Regions from separate parts of the Homo sapiens genome. Here all the other regions are reported to be linked to region 1. The links are microRNA targets in miRTarBase. Many come from high-throughput screens and were not tested one by one. Region 1 holds a microRNA gene; each other region holds the end of a gene's coding sequence.
Evidence for each region. The annotated mature microRNA hsa-miR-744-5p reads UGCGGGGCUAGGGCUAACAGCA and lies in region 1 at 2,436-2,457, shown strand. An mRNA with a match to its seed (bases 2 to 7 or 8) in the 3' UTR can be bound and repressed. Matches are read on the target gene's strand: a 7mer-m8 pairs with bases 2 to 8, a 7mer-A1 pairs with bases 2 to 7 and ends in A, and an 8mer does both.

Region 2: the mRNA of HSPD1 is a reported target of hsa-miR-744-5p. The part of its 3' UTR that is shown has no 7-base or 8-base seed match.
Region 3: the mRNA of EIF4A2 is a reported target of hsa-miR-744-5p. The part of its 3' UTR that is shown has no 7-base or 8-base seed match.
Region 4: miRTarBase lists CCDC106 as a target of hsa-miR-744-5p. Seed matches in the 3' UTR shown: 7mer-m8 at 1,454-1,460.

What each region holds. Positions count from the first base shown.
Region 1 is chr17:12,079,474-12,084,597 of GRCh38, forward strand. MIR744 (microRNA 744) reads left to right here and starts at 2,426; the gene lies at 2,426-2,523. MAP2K4 (mitogen-activated protein kinase kinase 4) reads left to right here. Exons shown (of 11, transcript NM_003010.4): 3 at 1,883-2,057.
Region 2 is chr2:197,482,747-197,487,870 of GRCh38, reverse strand. It overlaps HSPD1 (heat shock protein family D (Hsp60) member 1), which reads left to right. Exons shown (of 12, transcript NM_002156.5): 11 at 1-13; 12 at 673-1,287. The coding sequence ends at 825. SNORA105B (small nucleolar RNA, H/ACA box 105B) reads left to right here and starts at 968; the gene lies at 968-1,083.
Region 3 is chr3:186,787,690-186,791,750 of GRCh38, reverse strand. EIF4A2 (eukaryotic translation initiation factor 4A2) reads right to left here. Exons shown (of 11, transcript NM_001967.4): 10 at 3,869-3,948; 11 at 1,854-2,626. The coding sequence ends at 2,482. RFC4 (replication factor C subunit 4) reads left to right here. Exons shown (of 11, transcript NM_002916.5): 8 at 1-26; 9 at 1,345-1,425; 10 at 1,496-1,609; 11 at 1,687-1,851. The coding sequence ends at 1,782. SNORA4 (small nucleolar RNA, H/ACA box 4) reads right to left here; the gene lies at 4,002-4,061. Among named protein-coding and RNA genes, the nearest start is that of SNORA4, 2.1 kb to the right of the region's middle.
Region 4 is chr19:55,651,595-55,656,718 of GRCh38, forward strand. It overlaps CCDC106 (coiled-coil domain containing 106), which reads left to right. Exons shown (of 5, transcript NM_001370470.1): 5 at 836-1,567. The coding sequence ends at 1,152. It overlaps U2AF2 (U2 small nuclear RNA auxiliary factor 2), which reads left to right and starts at 3,441. Exons shown (of 12, transcript NM_007279.3): 1 at 3,441-3,559. The coding sequence starts at 3,511. RefSeq lists enhancers at 2,567-3,236, 4,187-4,266 and silencers at 3,287-3,336, 3,427-3,476, 3,687-3,826.

The sequences.
Region 1 (5,124 bases):
TAAGTCACAGGTCCCACTCACACCCAAAGAAATATGCCTACACAAAAATACGAACACTAAGAAGGTGGGGATCATGAGGACTTCCTGGAGCCTGTCTGCCACAGCCCTTCAATTAGCGAACACTGTAAAAAATTTTGCTTCTGATTTACAAGTAATTTTAATTAACTTTTTTTCAGCTTCCCTCAGTGGTAGATTGGTGCTGTATATTTCACCAGTGATTTTGCCATTGAGATAGTATTTACTTGCCAAAGATTATAGAACAATAATCATTATACATGGAACTTCTTCATGTTAGAACTTTTTTCAGGCTTAATCTGTCTACTTCATGAAAAAGATTACCAAGAAGAGTTTCCTATTTTTGCCTAGACCTGATTTCCATCTTAAAAGATCAGTTCCAGCTTCATCTTCACCTAAATGGTCACTTATGCCACTGATTTCCGGGCTTCTTGTGATTCTGGATGCTAGAGTATCAAATAATATGGGTGAAAGGACTTTGAACTGAAAAGCACTTGTATGAATGAAAGCTTATCACTTAGTATGATTTGAAAGTCTGTTATTTGGAACACTGATTTAGTAAATTGTTATTTAGACCAAGTGTATGAATCTTTGAAGTGTAACTTTGAACCTTAATATTAGTACATACGATTATTCTCAGAGTGGGGGTAGATTTTAAAGTTCTAAGTTTTTTGGGAACCTTAAAGGTTGCTACAGAAAACCATTCTACTAATTGGAGAAAACTTTCCTAAATTTTGGAAGAAGAAAAATAATGACCAAGCACATAAACTTTGCTTGTTTGCATCATAGGATCAGAGTTTAAAAGAGATCCTGATCATTTAGTATGAAACTGAAAAATGTAGTTGATATTTAATGAATTCTTTCATTGTGTGTATGGTTGATAGTTTGTTCCTACACATTGGGGTTTGGTGTGTGTGTGAGAGAGAGCAAGAGAGAGAAACAGATTGATTTTACATTTTTCATTGGATTTACTTTTTTACAAAGCATGGTTAGAAGTTATTAATACTTTGATCTCCAGGTTGAGATTTTGGAGATGATTTTTTATTTAATGGAAATATGTAATGAGTGAGCTCTTTTGTCTACGAGCCACTCATTTTTTATCCCATTGCTTTATCGAACGAGGGCTGAAAATTTCAATTTTGAATAGCACATGGCAATTTTCCTCTTAGAGCCAGCTAGCTATTCAGTTAACTGTTCTCCCACCTCAGGATGGTATTAACAAGAACAGGACAGTATACTAAGGCACTAGTTCCCAAACATTACTGGAATCATCTGGGGGTCTTTAAAAATACTGTTTTCTGACTCCTGTCCCTGGATAATTCAGATGTAATTGCTATGGGACGATACCTGGGCATTGAGATTTTTAAAATCTCCCCCAGGTGATTGTAAGGTACAGCAAACCTTGGGAATAGTTGTACTAACTGAAGATTGAGGCACTGGAATAACTAATGTTGGGTAAGATAGGGTAAGAACTTTTTCGCAATAAGGTTTGCAGCTCTTGGGATTCTCACTTGATAATGCTGTTTGGATAAACCATCATCCAAGTTTGAATAAGATCTTATATTTAGAAATGAAAACTGATCTGCAGAATTAGTTTAATCAATAAATGGGAATTTTTAAAAATCTTCTTGGCAATTTGTTTTTATGAATCCCGTTGAAGCTGTGTCTATTGACTACCTAAATCTAGATCATTCTTAATCCAGTGTGTAAAAAACCAGGATGACACAAATGAAAAACTTCAAAAACCTGGAGGTCAGACTATTTTAGTAATTTAGAAAACATTTTTCCCACACATTAATCAGTACTAAAAGAAAAAAGTTAAAACCTATTTAAAATGTGGAAAAATTGCTTCCCAATATTTTAACAGAGAGAGACTGAGAACACACAGCATTGAGTCATCAGGAAAACTGAAGATCTCCCCTGAACAACACTGGGATTTCACTGCAGAGGACTTGAAAGACCTTGGAGAAATTGGACGAGGAGCTTATGGTTCTGTCAACAAAATGGTCCACAAACCAAGTGGGCAAATAATGGCAGTTAAAGTAGGTGATGCCATGATTATTTTTGGTACTTTAATCCATTAGGTGAAATTTCATGGTGCAGTAATACCACTGTTGTTGTGTTCCTACTTTTGTGGTAAATGTGGGTGTTTAAAAAATTGTTTCTCCAACTCCTTTGAGGGTGTTCTGTGTAGAGGTTTCTTATTGGTGGCACATTTTCTATCTCTTTGGAAACATGAGTGTATGAAGTGTGCATGTTGATTGCATTTTTGGCATGATGCATTAACATGTTTTAAACTTCAGGCCCTTCTACTGCCAAGGTGAGTTCAGGCTGGGCGGCTGCACCCCTGGGAGCAGGGCAGTGCTGCACTGAGCCAGGCGGGAGCTGGAAGAAGACGCAGCACACTGGGTTGGGCAAGGTGCGGGGCTAGGGCTAACAGCAGTCTTACTGAAGGTTTCCTGGAAACCACGCACATGCTGTTGCCACTAACCTCAACCTTACTCGGTCCTGACCGGCTCGGCTTCTGTTTGTTTATTTCATCTCTACTCAGTACTGCCCTGTTCCCTGGTTTTAAAGTTGTACTGAAATGCATACCTTGTGATAATGTTGTCACATTTTGTCCTTATTGTGTCGTGCCACTTAATATGTTCATTAAAAAAAAAAAATGGCCAGAAACAGAGATTTGATCCATAGACAATACCTGGCAAGCTTATGCTGGTACCTGTAAAGAACTGGTGGTTTCCATCTGACTCCTAGTTTCATGTAATTGTAATTTATTCATTTGTTTGTTTAGATGTTTAACAAATCTTTGCTGTATGTAAGATATTTCAGGAAAATCAGCAACAGGGGGAACAACTTGCAAAAACAAAGGAAAAAAAGCTAGCTGTGGCCATACCCTCTCTGAGCTTAAAATTCCTATGGGAACAAAAATGTTTCAGTTTACAAGAATTCAGAATGGATTTGCATATAGTCCAAGCTAATCATCTTCCTATTAGTGTCCTATTTTGAGAGTTTGTCAGAGTGGTTGATAAGAGTCCTTAGTTTTTTCTTGACATTTGAGAATGAATTTAAATTAAAATAAAATGCTTTCTGTGTAGAAGTCTGTTGTGAGCCAAACCTTACTGTAACTATTTTAGTATCCTTCACTGTTGAGCATTTCTTTTTGCTGGGTCATATGAAAGTAATGTTAAATTAGTGGTAGGGAAAATTTTTATGATTCTCTCTATGGGTTCCTAACATTGTTTTTGGCTGTATTTTTAAAATGTGGTGAGAACTATAGACTTTTCATAGGCAGGTGTATATACACAACATTTTGTATACAAACCGTAGACCTCTAAAGATGCACAGGTGAAGAACTCTGCATTATGTGTTAAAATAAAATGTTTTATTGGAATGTGAAATGATTTCTGTATTCCTATTTTGTGCCACTGCAGTGTAAGTGGAAAGAGTCATTTTATTTAGACTCCTGGATGAATGTTGTGTTGTCCCTTTGTGCTACCTGTGTGTGACATCCAGTTTTAGTTGGCTGGATCTTAAGGGAAAGGTTTCCTATATAGTTAAAGTTGTAAACTTTTCTTTCAGGTACTAGGGAAAGTAATTTTAAAAAATTATTTCCTGCTTTTTACAGTTTGTGTTATGTGTGCTTCAACTTTGTTGATGAACATTATTAAACATTTTAGTAATATGGATTGATTTTAGCCATTGTTAAAAAGGTCATAAAGGTAAAGAGGGTACTTCCTTTTGACACTTAAAAGTTTTTCTCACTGATTAATTTGATAATATTTTGGGTTGTATAATGCTTACTCAAGTTTTGTAGGAATTCAAGAATGAAAATAGGAAATTGTTGTCCATCATTTGTAATGTTACATTATCAGTGGCTACTGGCTACTGTGACAGTTCCAGTTGGGATGCTATTAAAAATCCCAGCTGTACTTGAAGAACTTTCAAGGCAGTCATGAGACCTACAAACTGGTTGCTGTCACATGTATACCCACCACATGGTACTACCTAGCTTCGTTTACCATCTCGAATTCTTGAACAAGCATAGCAGTTGGGGATGGGAGAGGATGGCAGTACAACACATCAATTAACATATAGTTGAGGAGTACCTTTGGATTCCATGACTTCATTAATACTGGAAGAATAAGTGTTTTTGCATTAATATGCATTAAAATTTGATACCAATTGATGACAGATGTATGCCATCTCTGAATTAAAGAATGCATTTATTATTGGTTTCTTCAAAGAAGAATAGTCTTTCATCACACTTGAGAGAGTTCATTCATTCCTCATTTAGGTACATTGACTGGATTGACAGGCACAAATATACAGAATCAATGTATGATTAAGGAGGTGTTTGATTTGAGACTTTACGGTTTTAAAGGAACCATGAGACGGTGGTTCACACAGCTGAGAGCTTTCCATTGCTGTTGGTGAAATGAGAAACACGCTTGAAGTAACTCTGTGCTAACATCTTAATACACACTTTGAGAATAAAGAAGGATTGCATTATTAGATGTTAAGCTGGAAATGATCCTTAAGATTTACTTGCAATATCTGTAGAAAAGTGAACTGTGATATTAGCTTGATTTTTTTCTTTGTATTATTCCTCATTTTTAGTTCTGAGGAATTCCTTCCCCAAATTTATTTTGCCATATATAAGAAATATTTGAAAAAGGTGACTTCTTAGTAACCAGAGTTAATTACCCCAAAGACTTAATCTAAAAATCAGTTTTGATATAATCAGATTTAGTGAGGTAACATTGTAAGAGTTATACTTAAAACAATTTTTTGATGTTTGGTTTGAGGACAGTCTCCCAAGCTATCGGTGAGTTTCTGCATTAGGACCTAAGATGTGAACATGGTTTACCCTTTAGTTTTAATTGCACGTGCTTGGGAAAAGGGTCTTGCTCTCCTGTGAGTGGGAGTAATTTGTATACTTGTGCCTGAATGACTAGTCTTAGGGCTGCCTAGGGCAAAGCCAGTGTTGCCTCTGGGGTTTCTTAAAGCTCAGGGAGAACAACCTTCAACTCTTACCAGGGATTTACTTCTAACTGTGATCAGTATCCTTTACAAATAACATTTATTTAGTGTCCTGTTTTGCACGGT
Region 2 (5,124 bases), not on the chromosome of region 1:
TGACCCAACAAAGGTAAATGGTTGAACACTTTCTAAAAATTCTTTTGTTGTTCATTTTGTTAATGTATCCTCACATCCCAAATCTTTGATTTTGTCACCAGAAAAATAGTCTAATAGCAGTAGCAACAGCAATAGCTCTTGTGCCCATCAACAATTCTCATGTACATTTCCAGCACCTAGATATTTAATACTCCACTAAAAGGAAGCAGGATCCCTTGAGTAGCAGTTGAGTCCATGCCTGGAGGCAGGAAAAAATCAGGATGGATCTGGAACACCCTGTTCCTGCCTGGCAGTAAGAATACTTTCCAAGATACGCAGAACAGGGTTTTGTTTTGTTTTGAAGACAGAGTCGCTGTGTCGCCCAGGCTGGAGTGCAGGCAGTGACAACCTCCACCTCCTGGGTTCAAGCGATTCTCCTGCCTCAGGCTCCTGAGTAGCTGGGATTACAGGCATGCACCACCATGCCTGGCTAATTTTTGTATTTTTAGTAGAGACGGGGTCTCATCATGTTGGCCAGGCTGGTCTTGAACTCCTAACCTCAAGTCATCTACCTGCCTCAGCCTCCCAAAGTGCTGGATTACAGGTGTGAGCCACCATGCCCAGACAGAAATTTTCAATAAGTCTTGCTCATATTTTACTAAGGGAAAACTAATTAATTAAATTTTTTTCTAGGTTGTGAGAACTGCTTTATTGGATGCTGCTGGTGTGGCCTCTCTGTTAACTACAGCAGAAGTTGTAGTCACAGAAATTCCTAAAGAAGAGAAGGACCCTGGAATGGGTGCAATGGGTGGAATGGGAGGTGGTATGGGAGGTGGCATGTTCTAACTCCTAGACTAGTGCTTTACCTTTATTAATGAACTGTGACAGGAAGCCCAAGGCAGTGTTCCTCACCAATAACTTCAGAGAAGTCAGTTGGAGAAAATGAAGAAAAAGGCTGGCTGAAAATCACTATAACCATCAGTTACTGGTTTCAGTTGACAAAATATATAATGGTTTACTGCTGTCATTGTCCATGCCTACAGATAATTTATTTTGTATTTTTGAATAAAAAACATTTGTACATTCCTGATACTGGGTACAAGAGCCATGTACCAGTGTACTGCTTTCAACTTAAATCACTGAGGCATTTTTACTACTATTCTGTTAAAATCAGGATTTTAGTGCTTGCCACCACCAGATGAGAAGTTAAGCAGCCTTTCTGTGGAGAGTGAGAATAATTGTGTACAAAGTAGAGAAGTATCCAATTATGTGACAACCTTTGTGTAATAAAAATTTGTTTAAAGTTAATAATTGTGTTAGCATTTCCATGATTAGAAGATACTGAAAATTGAAAGCCAGTTGAAGGGCAGGCTGGCATGTGTGTAAAACATTATCCTATCTATGATATTTTCATGTTTCTCTTTGTTGCAGACTGAACTACATTATTCCATTGATAATGGGGAAAGACAGTTTCTATTTTCCCCGGTGCAAGGATGTAATCTCTCTTGGAGCTGTAAAATCTGGGAGGTTGGAGGGAACTCCAGCTCCTCAGCATGGCCTTTGGGCTGCTGCTGCAAGCAAGGCATTGAGGCAAATATTTTTGCTGTCCTTACCTTGGACAGAAGTAGAGGGGAGAAATAAAGTCCATCATCACATGAAAAGTCAGTCACTTGAAATCCTGTACCTAGAATACCTTTGGCTTTGGTAATTTCGTTGTGTTTGGGGTACAAAAAAAAGGATCTATTTGATAGCACAACGGGGTGACTATAGTCAATAATAATTGTACATTTAAAAATAAAAGAATGTAATTGGATTGTAACAAAGGATAAATGGTTGAGGGGTGATGATGATCACCCCTCCATTTCCATGATATGATTCTCCATGATATGATTCTCCATGATATAATTATTTCACACTGCATGCCTACATCAAAACATCTCTTGTACCCCAGAAATAAATACACCTGCTAGGTACCCAAAGAAATTTAAAAAAGGAGGATTGGTCAGCAAATGAGAGGGGATTGAATAAAAGGCATGTTAACTGAAGAAATCTTGTCTAGAATGTAGTTTGGGCTGTAAAAGTGGCAAGCAAGCAAACTCAAGTAAAAGAAATCTAGGGAGATAATTTACATCTTAAGAGGCCAACTAGTTTATTAGAAGAACAAGGAATAAGAAACACCTGGACTTAGTTCGTATTAGAGCAGGGAGAGTGACAGAAGACTAGAGATTAATAGGAGAGGAAAAACTAACCAAGTGTTTGCTATGCATTAGACATCAGGATAGGTAATTTTAACCCTCAATGTTAGGTTTGGGACTATTAAGCCTATGCTACATTTATATAAACTGAGACTCTGAAGGTCTAACTGCCAGCCGGGCCCAGTGGCTCATGCTTGTAATCCCAGCACTTTGGGAAGCTGAGGCGGGCAGATCACCTGAGGTCAGAAGTTCAAGACCAGCCTGACCAACATGGTGAAACCCCGACTCTACTAAAAATACAAAAAATTAGCTGGGCATGGTGGCAGGCACCTGTAATCCCAGCTACTTGGGAGGCTGAGGCAGGAGAATCGCTTGAACCCGGGAGGCAGAGGTTGCAGTGAGAAAAGAAAAAAACGGTGATAGGACTTAGGAATTCAGGTTTGTGGTCTAGTTCTGGTTTCACCAATAAGTGTAACCTTGGGTGCTTTCCTTCTCAAGCTAAGAAAGGAAAACGGAATTTCCCAATTCCTCTGGCTGCAGCTTTCAGGTTTCTTGCAACAATTGCCTAGACCCTGCTTAGCTTGTTCTTAGGTTGAGATCTTAAGTGTTTAAATGAAACACTGGTTCAAATTTGGGTCTACCACTTAACAGCTCTGAGACTGTGGAAGTTACTTAAGACTTTTTGAGATGGAGTCTCACCATCACCCGCTGGAGCACAGTGGCGCAATCTCGTGATCCTCAGCCACCCAAAGTGCTGGGATTACAGGCGTGAGCCACCACCCCTGGCCCAGTCTGATTTTCAAACAGTTAAATGTGGACCATCAATGTTGGAGTAAGAAAAGTACAGTGTAGTTTGTCATACTGAAAATACTCAGTCTGAATAGTTTGAATTTAGTAACCTTAAATGAAATCTTTGACTTTGTCACTAAAAAAAAGGTCTAATAGTAGTAGCAGCAACAGTAGCACTTGTGCCCATCAATAATTCTTTTTTTTTTTTTTTTTTTTTTTTTTGGAGATGGAGTTTCACCCTATTGCCAGGCTGGAGTGCAGTGGTGCAATCTCAGCTCACTGTAACCTCCACCTGGGTTCAAGCAATTCTTCTGCCTCACCCTCCTAAGTAGCTGGGATTACAGGTGTGCACCACCATGCCTGGCTAATTTTCATATTTTTAGTAGAGATGGGGTTTTACCATGTTGGTCAGGCTGGTCTCAAACTCCTGACCTCATGATCCACCCACCTCGGCTTCTGAAAGTGCTGGAATTACAGGTGTGAACCACCGCCACCAGCTGCCCATCAACAATTCTTACGTACATCTCCAGCACCTAGATATTTAATACTCCACTAAAAGGAAACAGGATTCCTTGAGTAGCAGTTGAATCCATGTCTTGAGGCAGGAAAAATGTCAGGATGGATCTGCAACACCCTGTTCCTGCCTGGCAATGAGAATACTTTCAAAAACACCCAGAGCTTTTTTTTTTTTTTTTTTTTTTTTTTTGAGACAGAGTCTTACTCTGTCATCCAGGCTGGAGTGCAGACAGTGGGGCGATCTCGGCTCATTGCAATCTCCACCTCCTGGGTTCAAGTGATTCTCCTGCCTTAGGCTCCTAAGTAGCTAGGACTACCGGTGCACACCACCATGCCTGGCTAATTTTTGTATTTTTAGTAGAGATGGTTTTGCCATACTGGTCAGGCTCGTTTCAAATTCCTGACCTCAAGTGATCTGCTGGCCTTGGCCTCCCAAAGTGCTGGGATTACAGGCGTGAACCACCTTGCCCAGCCACAGAGAAGTTTTAAAGACAAGAGCCAGCATGGCTGGGTGCCGTGGCTCACACCTGTAATCCCAGCACTTTGGGAGGCTGAGGTGGGTGGATGTTAGAAATGCTTGTTCCCCGGTGCTATAAAGAAATAGCACTTGAACATATATTTAATTTTCTCAGCAAGGCCATTTTTACTTTCTGCAGAAAGGGTACACTCACCAGCAGTTTTGCCACGAGAGTACACCGAACAAAAGAGACAGGGTCATTTATAACCTGGTGCATCCACCCTACTGCTGTGCCTGGTTTCCATTCACTGGAATGGGACCTCACATTCTCTATTTGTCCCCATTGGCTAGCAACTTAGAACTTTTCAAAAGAGGCAAAGGCAAGGAGAATACAGGCAGGAGGAAGTAACTTGCGGGATGCTGAGAAAGGTAAAAAAAAAAACACCTCCAAATAAGGAAGAGGAACAGGCTATGACCTAATGTTTGCTTGGACCAGTATAAGCATGCCAGGGCAAATATTTAGGCTAAATTGTGGGAGCTAAGAACACAAAGTATATTGATTTCTTTATTATGGCTAGCAGATATTTAAGAATGTTAGCACAGGTCTTTGAATAAATTTTGCTCCTAGGAGAAGTTGGTATTTCTTCTTAATTAGACAGGGAGGAAAGTCTCTTTGAAGAGGAACCTCTACTTCACTTTTGGTTTTGTTTTGTTTCGAGACGGAGTCTCTGTTGCCCAGGCTGGAGTGCAGTGGCTTGATCTCGGCTCACTGCAACCTCTGCCTCCCCAGTTCAAGCGATTCTCCTGCCTCAGCCTCCAGAATAGCTGGGACTACAGGCGCCCGCCACCATGCCCAGCTAATTTTTGTATTTTTAGTAGAGACGAGGTTTCACCATGTTGGCCAGGCTGGTCTTGAACTCCTGACCTCAAGTGATCCACCCACCTGGGCCTCCCAAAGTGCTGGGATTACAGATGTGAGCCACTACGCCCAGCTTTTTGCAATTACCTGAGGTCAAGAGTTCGAGACCAGTCTGACCAATATGGTGAAACCCCGTCTCTACTAAAAATACAAAAATTAGCAGGGCATGGTGGCTCGCGCCTGTAGTCCCAGCTACTCAGGAGGCTGAGGCAGGAGAATTGCTTGAACCTGTGGGGGTGGAGGTTGCAGTGAGCCGAGATAGCACCACT
Region 3 (4,061 bases), not on the chromosome of region 1:
AGAAAGTGATTACAGACATTGCCGGGGTAAGAGTACTGGATATTCTGAATTTCTTTTTAGTTGGCTTTTTTGTGGCTTTTAGGAAATTTTCATCCAACAAATACTGGGTGTTTAGCAAGTGCCAAGTACTGCACTAGGAAGTATAAGGGAATAACCTGGGAGTATCAGAGTGTTTGAGGTGAGGAGATAGCACTGACTTTTCAGTTTGTCAGGCATGTAACAGACATTTCAGGAAAGAAAAGGACACTTTCAGTTGTTAGTTTTTTTGTTTTTTTTTTTTTGAGACAGAGTCTTGCTGTGTCGCCCAGGCTGGAGTGCAGTGACGCAATACCGACTCACTGCAACCTCCACCTCCCGCCTCACCCTCCCAATTAGCTGGGATTACAGGCACCTGCCACCATGCCCAGCTAATTTGTATATTTTTAGTAGAGACGGGGTTTCACGATGTTGGTTGACCAGGCTGGTATGGAACTCCTGACCTCAGGTGATCCGCCCCCCGCTTAGCCTTCCAAAGTGCTGGGATTATAGGTGGGAGCCACCGCACCCAGCCTTCAGTTTTTAGATTTTATAAGAGATGCCTTTGGCAGTTAAATCAATTTTAGCAGATGTTCTTATACATGAAAACTATTTTGCCAGTTGTATATAAACAAAAGGCATATCCAACTTACAGTAATCATTTATTAAAGAGAATGGAGTACCCCACTTGTCTTTGGATACTCCCATGTAAAAACTCACTTCAGAATCACTACTACTTAACAACTTTTGTTTCTGTGACATTTTTCACCTGCACGGTAGGCCTTCCATATGACAAGACTGGTACCACTAATCCTCTTTGTTTCTATGACGTTTTTCACCTTCACGGTAGGCCTTCCATATGACAAGACTGGTACCACTAATCCTCTTTAATTTTCTGGATATTGTGGACTTTTTAAACCAATCTCATTAGTGGCATCTTTACATGGAGACATTGAGAGAAAGGGCACTTCCCCTTTAAAGAAATCAGTCTTTTTGATTGATCTTGGCCACTGTTCTGAGGAATCGTTATAGCCGCTAGGGGAAAACTTAATCTTCATCCACTGACCAGAACAAGCTATAATCCATGTGTGCCCAAACTTGGAAGTTCACAAAGCCATTAAAGGGCTTTAAAAGCACAGTTGTTAGCACCTTGGTTGCTTAGTGGTGACTGGAGTTACTCTGGCCCTTTCCGTTCTCCCAAAGCCTTCCCAGGAAAGTATGGAACTTAGGTGTGGAACAGAAATGACTGGGGGCACGGGGGCCAGTTGGCAGAGTGTATGTCTAGTCTCACCTAGAAACATCTTTAATACCGAACATTCAATTACCTAGGTAATACCAGCTGAGAAAATTGATGGAGTATTTGCTGCCTGTCAGAGTGGCTCTTTTGACAAACTAGAAGCTGTGGTCAAGGTAAAGTCAGCTTACTAACTTTGGGGAAAGGAATATTAAGTCATCATACCAAAAGTTTTTTTTATTATAGGATTTAATAGATGAGGGTCATGCAGCAACTCAGCTCGTCAATCAACTCCATGATGTGGTTGTAGAAAATAACTTATCTGATAAACAGAAGTCTATTATCACAGAAAAACTTGCCGTAAGTAGGTACTTTGCACATGTCAATGGAACATTTAACTACCTGAAGGATGCTAATTTCTTAAATTTTTCTCGTAGGAAGTTGACAAATGCCTAGCAGATGGTGCTGATGAACATTTGCAACTCATCAGCCTTTGTGCAACTGTGATGCAGCAGTTATCTCAGAATTGTTAACGTGAATATATCTGGATGGGGGGTTTTGTAAATAATGAAGTTGTAATAAAAATAAAATGACCAAAAGCACCTTTAAAGTGAATATACAATTTATTTAACATTCAAACTTCATTAAGACATGTGCAATATGGCAATTTTACTGGGGATTAAACCCTACCTAGGATTGCTTGCTGGGGCTTAGCAACAGGGTCCAGTTCACACTTAGCACTAATTAAATACTTTATTGAATAAATACAATACCAAACAAAATGCATTCAAATGCTTTCTAAAAAAATTTTAAAGGCCTTTCTACTCAGGCTAATGACAAACACAATAAAGGCAGATATGCTAGTTTAACATAATTGGCTGATTTTATACAGCACTTATATCTTTTAGTCCACAAGTATATTATTAAATGATAGAGAACATCTAATACAACCATTTCTACAGAACTAGGAAATAAATTTCTAAGAAAGAAAGATTTTACAGACCCCATCTTTTATACCCACCCCAACAGTCTAACTCTAAAGAGGATAAAGCCAATGACTTTCCTCACAAGAGCTCACGACTAACGTCGCTTTGCTATCAAAATCTGTATTTCTGATCCGTTATGAGCATTGAGACAAGATTCAAATATTCCCAAAGAAAGAAGCACAATGCACGTTGTGATCGCCTATTCAGCAACAGCGAGCACTGCATCCAAAACTCTCATCCCAGGAATTAAATAAGGTCAGCCACATTCATGGGCATCTCCTCCACTGTAGTATTGTAGAAAGTCTCAATGTCACGAAGAATCCTCTTGTCTTCTTCAGTAACAAAGTTTATAGCCACACCTTTCCTCCCAAATCGACCCCCTCTGCCAATTCTGTGTAAGAAAAAGAATCAGAACGTTACTTCTCACATAATGTATAAACTACTGAACATGACGATCCACTTGTTAACCACCAGCTGCTGTTTACTTATCAAGGTTATAGTTCGTGCTTCTAACTGGAGCACTAGCTGCTAATGCATATCTAGAGAAAAAAATCTTCCTTTGCAGTTAGTGCCAAAAGGATTCAAGGCTTGTCTGGCTGCAAAATGAGATTTTTATCAGGCATCTTGAGCATTATTATAAAGCAGATGACAGTATCGTGTTTGGGGTAGTGAAATTAAAGCCCATACCAAAGTGGGCCAGCCAAGAGCAGGTGTCAGCCTGGGACAGATGTGAACACCAGGAATAAAAGAGCAGTTATGTAATCCATTTCGACGCACTTCTGGAACTGTAAACTGTAAACAAATGCTGCAAAGGTTAACTATTTTCTAAAACTTACTTTTTTCCAGTGGGAAAACAAATATTTGGTATGGTAACCCAAACTTATCACTGCTTTTTTGCTCAGTTTCACACGTTGTAACTCAAATTACTCTAAACGTGTTTAACTGCCAAACAGCTACCTGCATGTTAGAAACCAGACAATACAAACCACCTAATAAGAAAGGTTCCCTAATAGAAATACTAATACAAAAAAATGCCTTAGCTGGAGCAACTTAAAAATCAAATAATCATGACAAAAGAAAAACAAATATAAATACCGACTCGCTCTTTATTCAAACAGTGTGCTGTTTCGCTTATGATTCCACGTCCTAAATTACGTCAACGCCGTTTCTGAGTGCCATCTCGTCACCAACTGCTGCTATCGACTCCTGTATTTTTTAAAAAGTCTTTTTTTACATCATATAACAAAGTACAATTCAATTTATTTAGGGATAAAGCCACTATAACTAAACCAGGGTTCACTCAAATTGCTACCAGGCGACACCAAGAAAATCCCAACTATAGAAAAAATCACCAAGAAAAACACATGGACACAAGAACATCACTAAAAGCTCAAGCATAAGGTAAGACCAACAATTGTGGAAAAAAACCCTATGTCCACAATCTGGGCAATGTTTACAAGTTTTCCCACTTTGTTCTCATCAACCTTCCCTAGTACAAATTTAATTACATCATCTTACTGAACACTACTGACTTTACTGAATCTATTCCTTGATTTGATGTTACCTTTCATACAAATCACAGTAGAAAAACGTATGAATTTTTTTCAATACAGCCAAGATGCTGGCTTCTCACCTGTGAATATAGTTTTCACGATTGGTAGGTAGATCATAATTTATAACCAAAGACACTTGTTGCACATCAATCCCGCGAGCCTGAAACACAATGGCATGTTTTAAAAATTGATTCAAAAAAACTTGACACCTGTCATGTAGGCCACAAAATAGTAGCGAACTATACTAAGTGGTATAGCCCACTGTGGAGTGTG
Region 4 (5,124 bases), not on the chromosome of region 1:
TTGCTGGAGAAAGACCCACCGGGTTCTGTCTCTCCCTCCTCCACGTGTGGTCCTGGGTTTACTTTCTTTTTTTTTTTTGGCGGGGGGGACGTCTTGCCCCGTCGCCCAGGCTGGAGTGGTGCAGTGGCGCATTCTCACCTCACTGGAATCTCCGCCTCCCGGGTCCACGCCATTCTCCTGCCTCAGCCTCCCGAGTAGCTGGGACTACAGGCACCCGCCACCACGCCTGGCTAATTTTTTGTATTTTTAGTAGAGGCCAGGGTTTCACCGTGTTTGCCAGGATGGTCTGGATCTCCTGCCCTCGTGATCCACCTGCCTCGGCCTCCCAAAGTGCTGGGATTACAGGCGTGAGCCACCGCGCATGGCCTGTCCTGGGTTTACTTTTAAGTTTTGGTCCACCGTCGAGGGCAGGGCCACCTTGGGCACCTCCTTAACTTTCATCAGTAAGGAGGAGGTGCGCAGTAGGACCTACCTCACGGGGAGGGTGAGACTTGAATAAGTGAATTCACCTGAGGCAGGGAGACGAGGGTGATGGCTCGGGGTGTCGGGGGGTGCTGGGACCGCGTGGGTTGAACCCGGCCTCTTGGCTCATTTTGTCTCCTCACTCTCCTTCCTGGGCCTGCCTCTTCCCATTTCCCACTGGTCCAAGATCTGGCTGCGATTCTTCCCCTCCTCTCTGCCCCTTCCTTGCCTGTTGTTCTCCGTCTCCACCTGCACCGGCCCGTGCCTCTGCTCGCCGAGATCCTTTCTTCCCATGGCCGTTTCCCTTCCCGTGTCCGCCCCCTCAGTCTTGTGCCCTGCCCCTCACTTTCGTGTCCCCGCCTCCACCCCTCAGTGAAGGACGCCGACGGGGTCCTCTGCCGGTACAAGAAGATCCTGGGCACCTTCCAGAAGCTCAAGAGCATGTCGCGGGCCTTCGAGCACCACCGCGTGGACAGGAACACCGTGGCGCTGACCACGCCCATCGCCGAGCTGCTCATTGTGGCCCCCGAGAAGCTGGCCGAGGTGGGCGAGTTCGACCCCTCCAAGGAGCGCCTGCTCGAGTACTCCCGCCGCTGCTTTCTGGCCCTGGACGACGAGACGCTCAAGAAGGTGCAGGCGCTCAAGAAGAGCAAGCTGCTGCTGCCCATCACCTACCGCTTCAAGCGGTGATCGCACCACGCCTCCGCGCCTCCACCCGGGCCTTCCTCCCCCGTGGACCCCGGTGGATGACCTGCCCCTCTCCCCGCCGCGCCCCTGCCCCTCCTCCTCGCTCCCTGGGTTGGGGGCTCCCTTAGCCGGGCCCCCAAGCGCGACGGCCCCGGACCGGCCGCGGCCCCTTCCCGAACGCCGGCACCCCCTTCCGCTTGGGCTGCCCAGCCCTGTCCTCGCCGGGCCCCTTCCTCCTGGAAAACCAGGCAGGCGGGTGCCCCCCCCTCGAGTGGGGGACTGTACAGACCCCGTCTCCGCCCTGGCCCCGCGGAGGAGCTGCCCACCTGATTCCCGGACAGACCTCCCCAACTCCGCGTGAGACAGAGAATTATTCAGATAATTTAAATTAAAAAACGACGTGAAAATTTGGAATAAACTTGGCCTCAGCCTCTTCCTAGGAGGGGGACGTGCCTGGGAGGGGGCGGCCGTCGCCCCGAAGACGGTGACGGGGTTGCGGGGGCTTCCAAGGGGGTGGGTGGTCAGGCGGGAGGACGGGTAGGATACGGTGTAATTAGCCCCCCGGAGGCAGAGATGGAGAGTGAAGCAGCTGCGCCCCAGAAAACTCGGAGGCAGAGCTCGGGAAAAGAAGCGCGGACACAGCCGGGCGCGGTGGCTCACGCCTGTAATCCCAGCACTTTGGGAGGCCGAGGCAGGCGGATCACGAGTTCAGGAGATCGAGACCATCCTGGCTAACACGGTGAAACCCCGTCTCTACTAAAAATACAAAAAATTAGCCAGGTGTGGTGGCGGGCGCCTGTAGTCCCAGCTACTTGGAAGGCTGAGGCAGGAGAATCGCTTGAACCCGGCAGGCGAAGGTTCCAGTGAGCCGAGATCGCGCCACTGCACTCCAGCCTGGGCGACAGAGACTCCGTCTCAAAAAAAAAAAAAAAAAAGTAAAAAGAAGCGTGGACACTACCCGCTGGGCTACCCAGACCGGAGCGCGGCGCGAGAGGCGTGAGTCGATGACCTCTAGCGAGGGAGGCCACCTAGCGGCCAGGCCAAGTCTGGAGGATACTTCCGTTGGGCCGCCAGGGGGCAGTAACGCCAGATCATCTGTCTCCCGGAAGTAATGCCAGATGATCCGTCTGCCGCGCCTGCGCGGCGGGAAGAGCCGGAGCGCGTTGATGTGGTTGCCGAGACAACCAAGAGGGTGGCCGGATTTAACGGCTGGGGATTAAGCACTTTCACCGTTGTAAGGGAAATCTCGCGCACGCGCAATGGGGACTGAAACCTGGTCCCCGCAACCCCCTTCACGGGAGCAGTGGGAGAGCGCGCCACAGAACGACTTTTACGCAGGCGCAGAAGCCTGTTTCCCCTCACCCGCGGCTTCCACCCTGCGCAGGCGCAAAAAGCCGCGCTGGCAACCTCCGCAGCGGTCGCGCGCACCCTTCATCCCTCTTGCTGCTTTTGTCTGGCACAACCTTCTCAGGCCCTCCGCGAGGCCGGCCCTTTTTTTCTTTCACTTTCCCCACCCGGAGAGCCAGGTGCCGAGAACTAGGACCTCGTCCCCTTCTCTATCCCTTCCCCTGATCCATCTCGTCTCTGTTCTCCTTCCCTTTTCCGTTCCCGAAGCCGGAAGGAGCCGAGGTACCCACGGAAAAAGTCGAAGCTGTCCCCGGAGAGTGAGGCCTTCACGAAGCGGTGGCGGAAGGAGCCGAAGTTCTCTGATCGGAGGCGTGAGCAAGTGGCATCTCCGGAAAGAGCCGAAACACGGACTCGAGCTTAATCCCAGGAGGGGCCCGAGGGCGAGATCCGGAAATCTCCGGAAAGAGCCGAAGGCCGGGACGGTTAGGATTGTCGGAAGTGGCCGATTGCTTGGACAGGGCCGGCGGAGAAGATCGGAGCAAGTCCGTGGAAGAAGCCAAAGACTGGGACGGATTGAATTGTTGGAAGAACCCGAACTCGCAGAGGGGACTGGGCGCAGTGGCACACGAGGACACACGGAAACCTCCGAACGTTGAGGAGATAATCTCGGAAAAGTTACGGAAACCTGGGAAGTCGGCGAAACCCTACGTTCGGGTGTTTTCGGAAGCAGCCGAAGCGGCCGCCTGCTTCGCCTTCGTCCAGTATCCGGAGATAGCCGAGGCGCTTCGGAGCCAGGCTCGGGGGGAGGGGCAAGCTCGCGGGCGGGCGGGCGGGTGAGGGGGCGGAGCCCGGGCGGGGCGGGGAGGGCTGCCGGAGGCTTGATTAGGTAGGAGGTGGCGAAGCGCCGGCGGCGGCCGGAAGTAGCCGAAGCCAGCGGCGGAAGTAGCCGAAGCGGCTGGAGCGGGCGGCAAGGCGAGGCGAAAGCTGCACAGGGCCCTACGCGGCCGCCTCAGCATGTCGGACTTCGACGAGTTCGAGCGGCAGCTCAACGAGAATAAACAAGGTGAGGGCACCGGGGTCGCGGGGCGGAGGTGTGGGCGGCTCCTCGCGTCGCTCTTTGCCCCCCCGCCATTTTCTCCCTCGCTTCCCCCCACTTCACGGCCGCGCGGCGCCCCCCAACCCTGGTTCCGTGGCGCGCGCCTCGTTCACGTGACGTCCCCAGCGTTCCGCCGCGCGCTAGGCGAGGGGAAGGGGGCGGCGGGGCGCGGGCCCGTGACGCATGCGCACGGCGGCTGTCCCTGCGCCCCACGTGGTCCTGGCGGAGGTGGCGCGGGGGACGCGGCACGAGCGCGCCAGATGCCTCGACGTGAACTTTTGTTTTTTAAAATCTTTTTGGTTTCTCTGAAAAGGAGATTATGTTAGTCCCCGTAATCTCTTTTCTCCCGCTGCCTTGGCACTTCCGCTTCCGGTCGGGCCCACGGCAGCGTCTCCACGCCCCCTTTGTTTCCAAAATGGCGGTTGTGAGAACTTGGTGGGGGGGCCCCTTTCCTTCCTTCACGTGGATGAGGGCAGAGCCGTTTCGGCGGATGCTTGGAGGCCACGGGCCCCTCGCGTACCCCTTTTCCTTTTTGCTGATTTGCTCTGATCTCTCCCGCCAGGTGGTTTCTGCCCCGTCTGTTGGTAGTGGGGCGCCTCATATTAACGTGTTTGGCACATGTTGCCTAAAAGCATCTGCATTCTTTGAGTGTCCGCACGCACACATCCTGCATATGCGGGGCTTTTGGCGGTCCCGAGAATCGCGATATGGAGTGTTTGAGACAAACCTCAAATCATTTACAATCCCAATCTCAGGGCACCTGATAATACTCAGTCTCAGATCTCAATATAGAGATAAGAAAACAGGTTCTGAGGGAGGAAGAGGGATCTGGCCCACTGCGCTAAACTCTTCACTTACGGGGAAGGTGGGAGGCAGGTTCCCTTCAGGGTATCGAAAATTGTGATGGGTTAGAACAAAAAGCCTGGGGCCCTGATCTTAGGGATTCCAATAATATTAGAAGTGGGAGAGTTGTTAAGACGCTTTAAAAATCCTCCGTGTTTCAGTTTGTGAAGAAATACAGGACCAGGGAAGATTGGAGACTTGTTTCTTTTCAGGCTTCAGCTGCCCATGTTCCTAGCTCGTTCGGAGGACGAAATGAGGGCTGAGGAATTTTCCTTTGAACCCGGGCTAGAGTTGGGTAGGGGCTGTATTAGGAAACAGTGTCCTGGGGAAGCAATAACGTTTACTGAGGGTCTGACTCTGTCTTAGTTGATGGACTGCTCAAGAGCATAGGCTTTGGAGTTGAGCACATCAGGAAGTTTAGATACCTGCTTTGTCGTTTAGTAACTGCTTTTAATACGTTTATATATTTTTTTCCATTTGTAGACTGATTATTATTTTCTTGTTACCGGATTTTGAGAAGATTAAAAAGGATGATAGTAACGATAGATGTAGTTAAACTCTGAGCGCTTACCGTGTGCCAGGCTCTTCGCTAAACTCTTAGCATGTTTTACTAAGTGGATCCTTTTAACAGCCTTGTGAGGCCAAAATGATTTCCACCTCTACTGGGGAGGAAACTGAGGGCTCAGAAA